Regions from separate parts of the Homo sapiens genome. Here region 1 is linked to region 2. The links come from fine-mapping of genetic effects on gene expression. Tissue or cell type: cerebral cortex. Region 2 holds a variant in brackets; the other region holds the start of a gene. All regions are shown on one strand. Distances are between the middles of the regions.

Region 1 (6,388 bases), 26 kb after region 2:
ACTAACAGCCAGCCCTGGCGTAGGAACCAGCGCCCTGGGGGATGGGAGCGCTGTTATTCTGGTGCAGCTTCAAGATACATGGGAATAAGAGGAAAGGGAGGCTGAGAAAATAGGGGTTATGTGCTGGGTCAGTACAGGAAGAAGGGTGAGTAAGAAAAGAGCAGCTGGTCGGCATTTGGAGTTAGATAAAAATAAAAGATGGGGCAGTTGAGGATTGAAGGGGAAGTAGGCAAGCTACCTGAGGTCAGCCCCTTTGCCTGGCGTCCACTGAGCAGAGCCTGGACACGCCGAAGGTGCTGGTCATTCTTCTGTTTCTGACCAATAGTATGGACTCTCTGGGCAGTCTCACTTATCAGTCGGGCAGCCCCTGGAATAACATCTCCCACCTTACTCCCCATACAACTTTGACTTTGGGTGCCATGGTTGTGAAAGAGGTTATTCTGGAAGGGACCAGGGTCAGGGTCTGACTTCTTGAAGAAAAGGCAGAGCAGTAGGGACACTGTATACATGTCAGTGGAAGATAGGGTCATACCAGACATTGTTGGAGGTCAGAATCAGAAAGGAATACAGGAGAGGAAGCCTCCAGCCTGCGTTGCCGAGGAGCAAGAACCTACGTGTGAGCTGTTGATGGTCAGGGCTGTTGGGACCTGTGTTTTCAGCCAAAGCTACGACGAGATTCTCATACCTGGAATTCAACAGTGGGAAGTCTGAGGGGAAGCAGAGCCAGGCAGAATTCCCCCTGCCTGATGTGCAGATCACCCTCTACCCATACTTCAATTGAAGGCCAGGAAAGATCTGCTTCTGGCTACTGTATCCCCTTCTTTCATGTAGGACTCAGAACCAGGCTCACACCACACAGCCCTCTTCCATCCCACACTGAAGAGTCACTGGCAGACTAGCCATACTTCAGGAGGCCAGATTGGAAGATGAAAGTTTATCAACCCAAGGAGGATGCTACAGACAGCCTGACTATAGCCCTTAACTCAGGCTTAACCCAGAGACAGAAATTCTAACCCAGGCCAGCCCCGCATCTGAAACTTTTCCAGAAACCGTGCCTCAGGCCCTAGTACAGGCCCCCTCACTTCAATTTAAAGTTCCACAGTTCCAGCTGAGGGCCTCAGGCTGCAGACCCTGGGTACTCCAATGGGTTCACATTTACTCTTGCAAAAGGTTTTTAGAAGCAATTTGGCTCAGGGTCGAGGCAAGAGTTTGGGATCGACCCCAAGGCATCCCACAAAGCTGAGGGCAGCAGTCATACAAACTAAAAGAGAGAGGCGGCTGGAATCAAGAGTTCACTCACTGCTGGAGCCGTTGCAGAGGCAGAGGGAGCAGGTCCTGGAGCTGAAGGCCCCCAAACTCAGGGCGGCCTTCCTGAAGCCGTACAAACCTCCGGAAACCTTTATTTTTCTTTAGCTGCTCCTGGAGTGAGGGAGAAAGGATTGGAAGCAGGGAGAGAAGCCACTCCTTATATTGCATTCATCTGTATCCACATTCCCAGCCTTCAGTAAGCTGTGCTCCTGAGAGAAACTCTCGTTTCTCTACAAGGAACTTACCACAGAGCTGAGCACCCAGAGGGCTCTATAAATGCAGGAAATGTATGAAGTTTGGGTCTCCAGATGAAGGGGAAAGGTAAGGGGCAAGATTTGAGGTCATCTCCAGGTTACCTGCAGGGTGGTCTGGGACCTCTCTGAGTTGGCAGCAAATTGGTTATAGAGCTCCAAGTGGCGGCAGAAGCCCTCCAGCCCTTGGCCCCAGCATCCTCCTTCCAGGTAGGGAAGCAGCTCCCTGTGTGGGCAAGGACAGCAAAAGGGCAGCTCTAGAACCACTCAAGCACCACCTCATTTAGTTTTCATGAGAATAGCACTAATAGTAGTGCTATTACCCCATTGTACAGATGGAGAACAAGGGCATGCTAAGGCCCTGGGCCAAGGCCACAGGTGAGCTAACTGGCGGACTCCAAATAGAACCTAAGTCTGACTCCAAGCTCTGTGCACGGCCACAGGCCAGGACTCTCCCTCCTTTCCTCTCCCTGTGCCCCTTCCACTCACTGGCTGGCGCCGTAGATGAGCTCCCAGGAGCCAAACAGGGCCTGGCGCTCAGGTGGTCGCAGGGTCCCCTTGGCTTTCAGGATCCCCAAAAAGTACTGCGGAAGGAGAGAACATTGGTTCTTAGCCTAGAGGAAGAGAAGGCTAACGCCAAGCGCCCCCAGAAACCGCAGAAGTCTGCCCAGGCTCCCTACATGCTCCGGGTTACCGACCTCGCAGAGACCCTCCCACACCCTGGGGTCCCTGTCCTATAATGGGAGCGTGTGCCAGGTCCCCCACCGTGGCCACCAGCCCCAGCTGTTCTTGGTAGCGCCGCTCGGTCTCTAGCAGCTCCCGGGCGGTGCAGGCGCGTTTCCGCTCCCAGCGGGCACGCTGCTCTTGCACCGGGCACCGCGAACCGGGGCAGGAGAGCTCCATGCCCTGGCTGAGGGATCGACACTTCCGGCTGCAGTCCGCGGCAGATTCAAATCCCAACCGCTCGCGGGCGGGAGCCGCGGAGGCGGGGCCGGGGAGGGCAGCGCGCAGGAAGGAGCATGCGCGGCGAGCGGCCGGACCGCGCAGGGTCTCTTCTGTCCAGCCCCACCGCCAGAGCGGCGCTTTAGGTGCGCGGCGCCGGCCAAGGCAGGGCAGGGCAGGGCAAGGTTGGGGGCAGGTGTGGAGCCCTCCTCTGAGTGGCACTATGTTGGAGCAGCAGCCTGAACTTTGAGTCAGGAGACGGGCTGCAGATGCTGGCAGGAACTTAATGTCCTATCTGGAGAATTGGGACGGGGGGCGGTCATTACAGTACACATTCTGTCCTGGGCCCATGCCAAATGCCAGGGGGTCAGTTGTTCCCAGAATTGGCTAGGAAAAGGTATAGCCATTTGAAGGAATGATATGAAAGTATTAAAAATGGTGTTGTAAAGAAGCTATCGATATGGGAAAACGCACATAGTAAGTATATTGCTGAGAGGAAAAAAAGCAGGCTACAAAGGTGTATAATATAATCCCCTTTGTATAAAACATATATAAAATGTTGGAAGGCAAAACAATCAAAAGTTAACTCTGTTGCCAGGCACGGGAGCTCACACCTGTAATTCCAGCACTTTGGGAGGCAGAGGCAGGAGGATCACCTGAGCCCAGGAGTTCGAGACTCCATCTCTCCAAAAAAAAAATAAATAAATAAAAAATAAAAATAAAAAGTTAACTGTGGTTTTTATCTCCGGGTAATGGAATTGAAGATAATGTGTTTAACAAATGTGTATTAAGTACCTAATCTGTATCTGTGCCAGGCACTGGATCACTGAAGCTAAAGGGATGAATGGGACAAACAGGGTGATTTTAAAAATTCTCTTATACTTCTGCCTTTCCCAAGTTTTCTACATTAAGCATGCATTACTTTGTAGTTAGAAAAAAAAAGTTATTAAAAAAAACAAAATGTCAGAAACTTTAGGCTCCCTCCCTACTGTTTTGGACTCCTAGGAATCTGGGCCGCAAGCCAAGAACCAGAGGATTGTCAGGGTTCTGAGGTCTCTACCACCTCCCCACCAGCTCTGACATTCTAAGAATTCTAAGAAAGGAATAATGCTGGGCTTAGACCAGGGAGGAATAACTTGAAGGGCTTGGATGAAGGAAGGGGAGAGTTTGGATCAGACTGTACCTTGGGCTTATGTCCCAAGGAAACTGGTGGTGATACCAGATAGGTAAAGGACTGGTTACACTGTCTCAAGTGAATGTGGGACAGTCCACACACTAAGAGCTCAAACATGGAAGAGGACAGATAATCCCATGGTAATTGGTGTCACTGTGAGCCCAGGTGATGAGAGTAGACCACAACACCTGGGGTGCAGTTGGTGATGGGTGTGTTTGTGAATGCTGCCAGTGTGTGTTAGTGCTTTGGGTGGGTGGAAGAGGGGTGGGGAATAGAGCCTCCTGTGAGCATCGGTTGGGGAATCATTCAACTCTAGAAGAGGAAGAGGGCAAAGCCGAGAAGACACACTGAAAACAGTTGGTGACAACTAATTCCCTGGGGACCGAGTCTCCCACAGAGCAAGTCAGGCACACCATACTCTACCTGGAACAGCTGCTAAACTCCGCTCCCACAGCCAAAGATAGGAGGGGCCAACAGGAGGAGGTTCAGAGGATAGTCAATAACCCCTTTATTCTTTAATTATCCTCAAATTTTGCTTTCAATCCGATGGATGCTGGAGAAGCACTAGGGATGCTTTGAACAACAATCATCAGTCATTCAACAAAATTAGGCTGGGCATGGTGGCTCACGCCTGTAATCCCAGCACTTTGGGAGGCTGAGGCAGGCGGATCACCTGAGGTCGGGAGTTACAGTTACAATGGCTGTGTGCTTCTTTATGTGTTGTCAGAGACCAGCCTGACCAATGTGGTGAAACCCCGTCTCTACTAAAAATACAAAATTAGCCGGGCATGGTGGCACGTGCCTGTAATCCCAGCTACTTGGGAGGCTGAGGCAGGAGAATCGCTTGAACCCAGGAGGCAGAGGTTGCAGTGAGCCGAGATCATGCCATCGCACTCCAGCCTGGGCAATAAGAGCGGAACTCTGTCTCAAAAAAAAAAAAAAATTAAATGCCAATCATGTGCCAGGTCCTGTGCTAGGCATGAAGATGAAATGGTGGGCAAGAGACATATGACCCCTGCCCACAGGGAGCTTACACTCCAGCATGGCAGATACAGTAAGGAGTCACCATAAAATGAGGAAACATTACAAGAGACATGTAGTCTTCTACACAAGCATGCAGTGAAGGGACTGATCCTAGTGTAGGAGTCAGGGAAGGCTTCTTCTCAAAGAAGTGATATGTGAACTGATGACCTGAAGGATGAATAAAACCTGGCTAGGCAGAGCTGGGCGCTGGCAGCAAGGGAAGTGGAAAAAAGAGTCAAACAGCATGGACAAAGGCTTGGACACACACATATGCAAGCATACGATGAATTTAAGGAACTGCTAGAAGTTCTGTAAGATGAGAGCATAGACTGCAAGGGAGAGAGTGATGACAAAGGAGACTGGAGAGGTAGACAGAGGCCAAACTTAGAAGGAATTTATATCAGTAAAATTGTGATATAAGTAATAATAAATTCAAAGTGGCTAAACATTAAGATAATTTATTGGCTCATGCAACTGAAAAGTCCAGAAGCAGGTGGGCCCTAGTGTTGGCCTAATCCAGCAGCTCAATCATGTTACCAAGGACCTCTTTCCACCACTCCACTGTGCCTTCCATGGTTTTACCTTCATCTTAAGGCTGGCTTCCATTGTGGGTACAAGATGGCTGCCCACAGTTACAATGGCTGTGTGCTTCTTTATGTGTTGTCCGCAGAGTTGGTTCCCTTAGCCATCAAATACTTCAGACAGAGAGCTTCACTGATTGGACCTCCCTAGGTCACAAGCCCACCATGGAAACCAGGGCAATGGCGGCCCTCTGAAGGCCACGTCAGGTACTGTGAACCTTATCCTAAGGGCAATGGGAAACCATTGAAAGGCCTTAAACAGGGAGTGAGATCATCAGATGTGCCATTTTAGAAACATCACTCTGGTTGGCTGGACTCAGCAAGACCCATCAGGAGGCAGTTGCAGTCATCCAGGTAAGAGGTGACGAAAGTATGAGCCAAGATGAAAAATGTAGATGAAAAATTTAGAAGGTAGAATCCATAGGGCATGGTTATTGAATGCTAGGGTGAAGGAAAAGATGAAAGTAGAGATGGTACCAGGTTTCTGGCTTCTAGGTGGAGGGTGGTGCTATTCACTGAAGGAGGATGAAAAGGAGATTTGCGGGGAAGACAAATTCAACCTGGGGCCTGTTAAACTTGAAATACTTGTGGGACATCCAAGTGGAGATGTCTTGGGTCTTGTCTATTAGGCAGATGGTTATGGGTCTGGCATGGGGAGAGAGTCCAGCCTGGGAATACTTGGGTGTCATCAATTTATAGGAGCCATGGGAGTGGATGACACGGCCTTGCAAAGATAAGTAGCAGGATAAGGGCAAAAGCATGAGAGTCTTCAATACGAACTCATCCCTTCTCATCCTGTGCGTCCACGTCAGTTCCCCTGCACTGATGGTGGACTAAATGGTGGCCCCATATAAAGACATGTCCATGTCCTAATCCCCAAGACCTGTATATGTGACCTTGTTGGGAAAAAGGGTCTTTGCAGACATAATTAGTTAAGGATCTTGAGATGAGATCATTCTGGATTATGTTGGTAGGCCCTAAATCCAATGACAAGTGTCTCAGTGAGAGACACCCAGTGGAGACACAGGGGCAAGAGAAGGCCATGTGAAGTTGGAGTAATGCAGCTACAAGTCAAGGAATGCCTGGAGCCGCCAGAAGCTAGAAGAGGC
Region 2 (7,236 bases):
ATGACTGGGAGTAGGAATTGGAATTGGGGGAGAGAGGTTTTTACTTTTATTTTTTCCCCTATGCTAGGATTTCTCACCCTCAGCACTATAAATTTTGGGTGAGAAATTCCTTATTGTGAGTAGCTGACCTGAGTTTTGTAGGTTGTTTAACAGCATCCTTGACCTCTTTCCACTACCACCCCCTCCCCAGTTGTGAAAACCAAAAATGTTTCCAGACATGCCCTAAATGTTTCCTGCAGGGGGTGGGGGCAAAGTCACCCCTGGTTGAGAACCACTGTTGTGTAGCCTTTGGTTCTATTTGACTTTTTTTTTAACCACGTGCACATTATTTCTATAATTAAACATTTAACTGAGGTCACAAGACCGAAGAGGAAATATGAAGCTGTTATAAGGAACCAGAACAACTAAGTAGAGAATATACAGTAAAGGATAGGGAAGCAAGTTAGCAAAGTGGGAAGAAATGGAATATAAATAAAAGAAGTAGAAATGAAGAAATGAGAATCACTTAAATCTGTTCCCTCCTTGTAACAAAACCAAGCTGGAAGTTTAAACCCATCTTTGAGAGACTGCAGAGCAGGGCCAAAGATGGAGAGACCCTGGCCACATCGCTTCCAAAGACCCTCTTCACCTATAAGTAATTTCTTAAGAACTTTCTGGCCGGGCGCAGTGCCTCACGCCTGTAATCCCAGTACTTTGGGAGGCCTAGGCGGGTGGATCACGAGGTCAGAAATGAAGAGAGTATCTGAGTCTTGGAACTAGAGGAGCAGGATCCTGAAGTCCCACATAGTCCTGTCACTGAGGTCCCTGTCAGGCCTCTGAGCCCAAGAAAAGCCATTATATCCCCTGTGACCTGCACGGATACATCCAGATGGCCTGAAGCAACTGAAGATCCACAAAAGAAGTTAAAATAGCCAGTTCCTGCCTTAACTGATAACATTCCACCATTGTGATTTGTTTCTGCCCCACCCTAACTGATCAATTGACTTTGTGACAATACACCCTCCCCACCCTTGCGATAAGTACTTTGTGATATTCCCCCACCCTTGTGAATGTACTTTGTACGATACACCCTCCCCACCCTTAAGAAGGTACTTTGTAATATTCTCCCCACGCTTGAGAACGTACTTTGTAAGAAGATCTACCCCCTGCCCGCAAAAAATTGCTCCTAACTCTATCGCCTATCCCAAAACTATAAAAACTAATGATAATCCCATCACCCTTTGCTGACTCTCTATTCGGACTCAGCCCGCCTGCACCCAGGTGAAATAAACAGCCTTATTGCTCACACAAAGCCTGTTTGGTGGTCTCTTCACACAGACGTGCATGGCATTTGGTGCTGAAGACCCGGGACAGGAGGACTCCTTCGGGAGGCGGGTCCCCTGTCCTCGCCCTAACTCTGTGAGGAGATCCACCTACAACCTCGGGTCCTCAGACCAACCAGCCCAAGGAACATCTCACCAATTTCAAATTGGGTAAGCGGTCTTTTCACTCTCTTCTCCAGCCTCTCTTGCTACCCTTCAATCTCCCTCTCTTGCTACCCTTCAATCTCCCTGTCCTTCCAATTCCAGTTCTTTTTCCTCTCTAGTAGAGACAAAGGAGACACATTTTATCTGTGGACCCAAAACTCCGGCGCTGGTCATGGACTCAGGAAGACAGCCTTCCCTTGGTGTCTAATCACTGCGGGGATGCCTGCCTGATTATTCACCCACATTTCATTGGTGTCTGATCACCACGGGGATGCCTGCCTTGGTCATTCACCCACATTCCCTTGGTGGCAAGTCAATTGTGGGGACGCCTGCTTTGGCTGCTCACCCACATTGCAGCCCAGGGCTGCTCATCACCCCCTGCTCCGTGTCTCTACCTTTCTCTTTAAACTTACCTCCTTCACTATGGGCAACCTTCCACCCTCGATTCCCCCATCTTTTCCCTTAGCCTGTGTTCTTGAAAACCCCTTCAACTCACACCTGACCTAAAACCTAAATGCCTTATTTTCTTCTGCAATACCACTTGGCCCCAATACAAACTCGAAAATAGTTCCAAGTGGCCAGAGAACGGCACTGTCAATTTGTCTATCCTACAAGACCTAGATAATTTTTGTCGAAAAATGGGCAAATGGTCGGAGGTGCCGTACATCCGGGCGTCTTTCACACTTCATTCTCTCCCTAGTCTCTGTTCCCAATGCGACTTGTCCCAAATCCTCCTTCTTTCCCTCCCACCTGTCCCTTCAGTCCCAACCCCAAGTGTTGCTGGGTCTTTTGAATCTTCCTTTTCTACCGACCCATCTGACCTCTCCCCTCCTCCCCAGACTGCTCCTCCTCAGGTCGCTCCCCACCAGGCTGAATCAGGCTCCAGCTCCTCTTCAGCCTCCGCTCCCCCACCCTATAACCCTTCTATCACCTCCCCTCCTCACACCCAGTCTGGCTTACAGTTTTGTTCTGCGACTAGCTCTCCCCCACCTGCCCAACAATTTCCTCTTAGAGAAGTGGCTGGAGCTGAAGGCATAGTCTGGGTACATGCGCCTTTTTCTGTATCAGACTTTTCCCAAATCAGCCAGTGTTTGGGCTCTTTCTCATCAGACCCCGCTAAATATATACAGGAATTCCGATATCTAACTCTGTCCTGCAAGTTAACCTGCAGTGACTTAAATGTCATCCTGACTTCCACCCTCTCCCCAGATGAACAGGAAAGAGTTTTTTCTCTAGCCCAGTCTCACGCTGACAACCGCTGGCTTCATGAGCCAGGCCTCCAGGAAGGCATCAGAGCAGTTCCCCGAGAGGACCCCCAAAGGAACTATCAGGCAGATTCCCCAGGTATAGCTAGGCGAGATTACATGATTTCCTGCCTAGTTGAAGGGCTTAAAAAGGCAGCACACAAAGCTGTTAATTCTGACAAGCTAAAGGAAACTACCCAAGGTAAAGGCGAAAACCCAGCCCAGTTCCTGGCCCGCTTGGCAGCAACCCTTAGACGCTTTACCGCCCTAGACCCAGAGGGGCCGGAAGGCCGCCTTATTCTTTTTTTTTTTTTTTAGATGTATTTTACTTTTATTTTTTTAATCTTTGGGCACAAAGATTTGACACATTATTTCAAAAGAATACAACTACTCATCCAGTAGGAATAAATTCAACAAACATTAATTGATGAGCAAAGTACTGGCTTTAAAAAAATAAACTAAGTAAATTTTTTTTCCCTTGGGTAATAAAATAATAATAAAAGAAGAGACATTGGGTTAAGCACCCTTAGGGCAAAATAAAAATGCAATTGGTTTCTCAAAAACTTGCTTTTGACATCTCAAAAAAAGTCATGCTAGGGAAATGAGCTAAGAAAGCACATTGTTATTTGTACGTGGTAGTGTGACATCCTTGCCATGTTGAAGGTAAGACCATCTAAAGGTCAAGACAGTACACAGAGACTATAAAAACAAAATTGAAATAAAAAGCAGGATAATAAAATGAAAGGAAAAGTAGAAACTGCCAGAAAGAAGCAGAAGCAGCACAACTGTCAAGGAGACAGTGTAAATTCAGATGCCATCAAGCTTTACCACAAAGAGATAAAGGAAAAGGCCAATTTTGATGACAAATGACAAAGTGTAACATCCAAAGAGAAATGGAGAAAAAAGAGGTCATCTGTCCTCCTGTGAACATTTGAATAGTTCTCAGATACACTTAGTTTGAGCAGAATTATGTGATTACTGAGTTCTTCCCTCTCTGCTTGGCAAAAATGATGGAAGTCTTGTCTCCAATTTTAACCCTATTTGCCTTTTTGCAACAATATGGCAGGTTGTTTACATGCTGGCTGGGGAAAGGGAAACTAAGAGTAAAAACCAACCAGTTGTTACTTTGCAAAATGGAAATGTAACTCTGAGGATTAAGCAATCTTGACTGCTAACAAAATTAATTCCTGAACACCATGAAAAAGGAAAAAATACATAGAAATTGATATTTTAAACGTTAAATATTCAGCAGTTTCTCTTATTTGGCAAAATCTTTTTGAAGCAAAGCTGATCTCATTTTGGTTTAGATCACATCAAAGAATTTCCACCAAAAATGACTGAATTATTGCTATTTACTAAAATGGTTTTCATTCTGTGACATTTTTCTGTTTCAACCAAAATTGGTGTACTAAAAGCCATTTCTGGCACTGACCATCTACAGTTAGTGCAGACTCCATAAGTTAAGGGCTTAATCCTTCACAAATCTTCTCTTCAGATTCCAGCTGTACTTTGGGGGTCCCCAGGTCACCCACACTTCTGAACAACTAGCTATAAATTTGGTGATTCCCATGACCCTGTTAGTGTTACCGTGGGTCTTTGCTCACAGAGCTCCCAAGATGGTGG[T/C]GAGCCGCTTCCAAGATGGTGGCAAGCCTTGTGTTCTCTGACTTGGGGTTCTTGGCCTCACGGATTCCAAGGAATGGAATCTTGGGCCATGCGATGAGTGTTATAGCTCTATTAGAAGCCGTGGGTCACGGAAGAGAACTGTGGAACCCAGTGACTAGTGTTCAGCTCGATTAGGACGAACCCAGGCACTTAGCCGTGCAAGAACAATGGGAAGCCTTTAGCACGATCGGGAGTGGCAATGGGAGTCTCACTGGGTCAGGAGCACAGCAGACACCCTGCCGGATCTGGAGGGATGGGAGTCAGCAGCAGGATGGGAGTCAGCGGCAGGTCTGCGACAGTGGCAAACAGCAGTGGTGGACGGGGAGCGAAAGCTCAGCTCGAGCCGTAACAAACATGGACCAGAAGAGTGCAGTTGCAAGATTTAATAGAGTGAAAACAGAGCTCCCATACAAAGGGAGGGGACCCAAAGGGGGTTGCCATTGCCGGCTTGAATGCCCGGGTTTATATCCCGATCCTTGTCCCTCCTGCTGTGCTCTCAGGCAAAAGGTGATTGGCTATTTCTTTACCTCCTGTTTTTGCCTAATTAGCATTTTAGTGAGCTCTCTGATTGGTTGGGTGTGAGCTAAGTGGCAAGCCCCATGTTTAAAGGTGGATGCAGTCACCTTCCCAGCTACGCTTAGGGATTCTTAGTCGGCCTAGGAAATCCAGCTAGTCTTGTCTCTCAGTGCCCCCTCTCAACAGGAAAACCCAAGTGCTGTTGGGGAGGTTGGCTGATGACCGCTGTAACTGCTTCCTGCTGAATTGGGGCATAGTAGGGGTTGCACAGTTGAGATTTCCTCGGGGGGGGTGCCTTCGATGTCATTAACATCGGAGCATGGGCTAGCAGGCTGGTCCAGGGGTCTGTGGTGGATCTTAGTCATGGACTGCATCTGGGGCTCCATTTGAAGAACCATTTGTAGTTTTACAGTTTCAATTCTGGAAGAGACAAACTTAACAAGGAGGTTAAAGATACAGGGATTGAAATGTATGGCCTGCAGTGCAGGGAATTACTTCTTTGGCACACTTTACAGGCCCTGACTATCTGCTTGATAGTTTTGAAAGACCTGGTCCAGTAAATAATAATTTGGCCATCTGATGGGTGCTATCAATGCCTAAGTGAAAGATTTGGTGAAGGGTTTAAAGTAATTTCCATTGGTTAGCTGCAGGCATAAGTATTTTTCCTTCTTCGGTGGCTAGCCATCTTGAGGAGAGGAAACTATGTCTTCTTGAGGTTCCTCATTCTATTTCTTCTTCTGAGTACTGGGGCTTGGTTTCCTGGAGGGGATTACCTCATACTAGGGGTCCTTCTATAAGCATTTCTAATGGAGGGTCCTGCCTTGTGGCTCTTTTGGCTTCAATATCTGCTTGGCGGTTCCCTTCTATTTCCCTTTCCTTTCCTTTGTGGTGACCCCGGCAGTGTAAGACTGTCACCTCTTTAGGTTTCTGTACAGCCAATAGTAATCTCCTAATGGCTTCCAGATGTTTGATAGGTGTTTCCTTGGAAGTTAGGAATTCCCTTTCTCTCCATACTGCTGCATGGGCATGGAGGACTAGGTGAGCATACTTAGAGTCTGTATATATATTTACCCTTTTCCCTTCTCCTAATTCTAGTTCCCGAGTGAGGGCTATTAGTTCTGCCAGCTGAGCACTAGTTCCTGGAGTGAGGGGATTACTTTCAAGTATTCCATTATCACTAACCACTGCATACCCTGCTTTTCAAAGCCCTTTTTCTACAAAGGAACTTCCATCAGTATACAAGTTGAGGTCGGGATCAGTCACGGGAACCTCTAAAAGGTCCCCTCTAGCGGCACTGGTTTGAGCAATTACTTGTTGACAGTTATGTTCTATCTTTTCTTCATTGTCTGGAAGAAATGTGGCTGGGTTAAGAGTTGCACAAGTGCACAGTCGCAGCACTGGCCCTTCAAGTAATACAGCTTGATATTTAAGTAAATGGTTGTCTGACAGCCACAAGTCTCCTTTAGCAGTGAGTATGCTGTTTACATCATGAGATGGCCACACAGTAAGATCACCTGTATTATTTTAACTGCTTCAGATACTAAGACTGCTACTGCTGCCACTATCCGTAAACAATGGGGCCAACCCTTTACCACTCCATCAATTTCCTTACTCAGGTATGCCACGTGTTGCAAGCTCATCCCTCGGACCTGTGTAAGGACTCCTAGAGCTATTCCTGTTTCTTCTGTGACATATAAAGAAAAGTCTTGCCCCATTGGCAAGCTTAACACTGGGGCTTGGGTTAGGGCCTTCTTTAGGGCCTGGAAAGCCGCTTCTGCTTCAGGTGTCCATCTTACTAAATGGGTATTGGCTTTCTGAGTTTCCTTAATTAGTGTATATAATGGCCTGGCTATTTCGCTGTACCTGGGAATCCATATTCGGCAGAAGCCTGTTATGCCAAGGAACCCTCTTAGTTGCTTTTGGGTTGCCGCCTTATTCTTAATATGCATTTTATCACCCAATCTGCTCCTGATATTAGGAAAAAACTCCAACAATTGGATTCCGGCCCTCAAACCCCACAACAGGACTTAATTAACCTTGCCTTCAAGGTGTACAATAATAGAGAAGAGGCAGCCAAGTGACAAGGCATCTCTGAGTTACAGCTACTCGCCTCTGCTGTAAGACAACCCACAACCACGTCTCCAGCACACAAAAACTTCAGAACATCCAAGCCACAGTTCCCAGGGGCTCCTTCAAAACCTCCTCGTGGACCTGGCTTCAAATGCCAAAAGCCTGGCCACTGGGCCTGAGAATGCCCACAGCTCGGGATTCCTCCTAGGCCGTGCCCTGTCTGTGTGGGCCCCCACTGGAGGTTGGACTGTCCGACTCACATCGCCACCATTCCTAAA

The links. PIP is the estimated chance that this variant, and not a neighbour inherited with it, causes the effect. A credible set is the group of variants that fine-mapping cannot tell apart.
Region 1: ARHGEF39 starts here. The variant in region 2 is the best candidate, but not a certain one, in a credible set for the expression of ARHGEF39 in cerebral cortex (GTEx, PIP 0.57).

What each region holds. Positions count from the first base shown.
Region 1 is chr9:35,662,708-35,669,095 of GRCh38, forward strand. ARHGEF39 (Rho guanine nucleotide exchange factor 39) reads right to left here and starts at 2,488. Exons shown (of 9, transcript NM_032818.3): 1 at 2,325-2,488; 2 at 2,049-2,143; 3 at 1,665-1,785; 4 at 1,301-1,419; 5 at 615-685; 6 at 239-367; 7 at 1-34. The coding sequence starts at 2,462. RefSeq lists an enhancer at 2,277-2,356 and a silencer at 2,507-2,656.
Region 2 is chr9:35,636,014-35,643,249 of GRCh38, forward strand. It overlaps a transcript of CD72 not described here. Among named protein-coding and RNA genes, the nearest start is that of SIT1, 11 kb to the right of the region's middle. The variant T/C (reference allele first, on the strand shown) is at 4,334.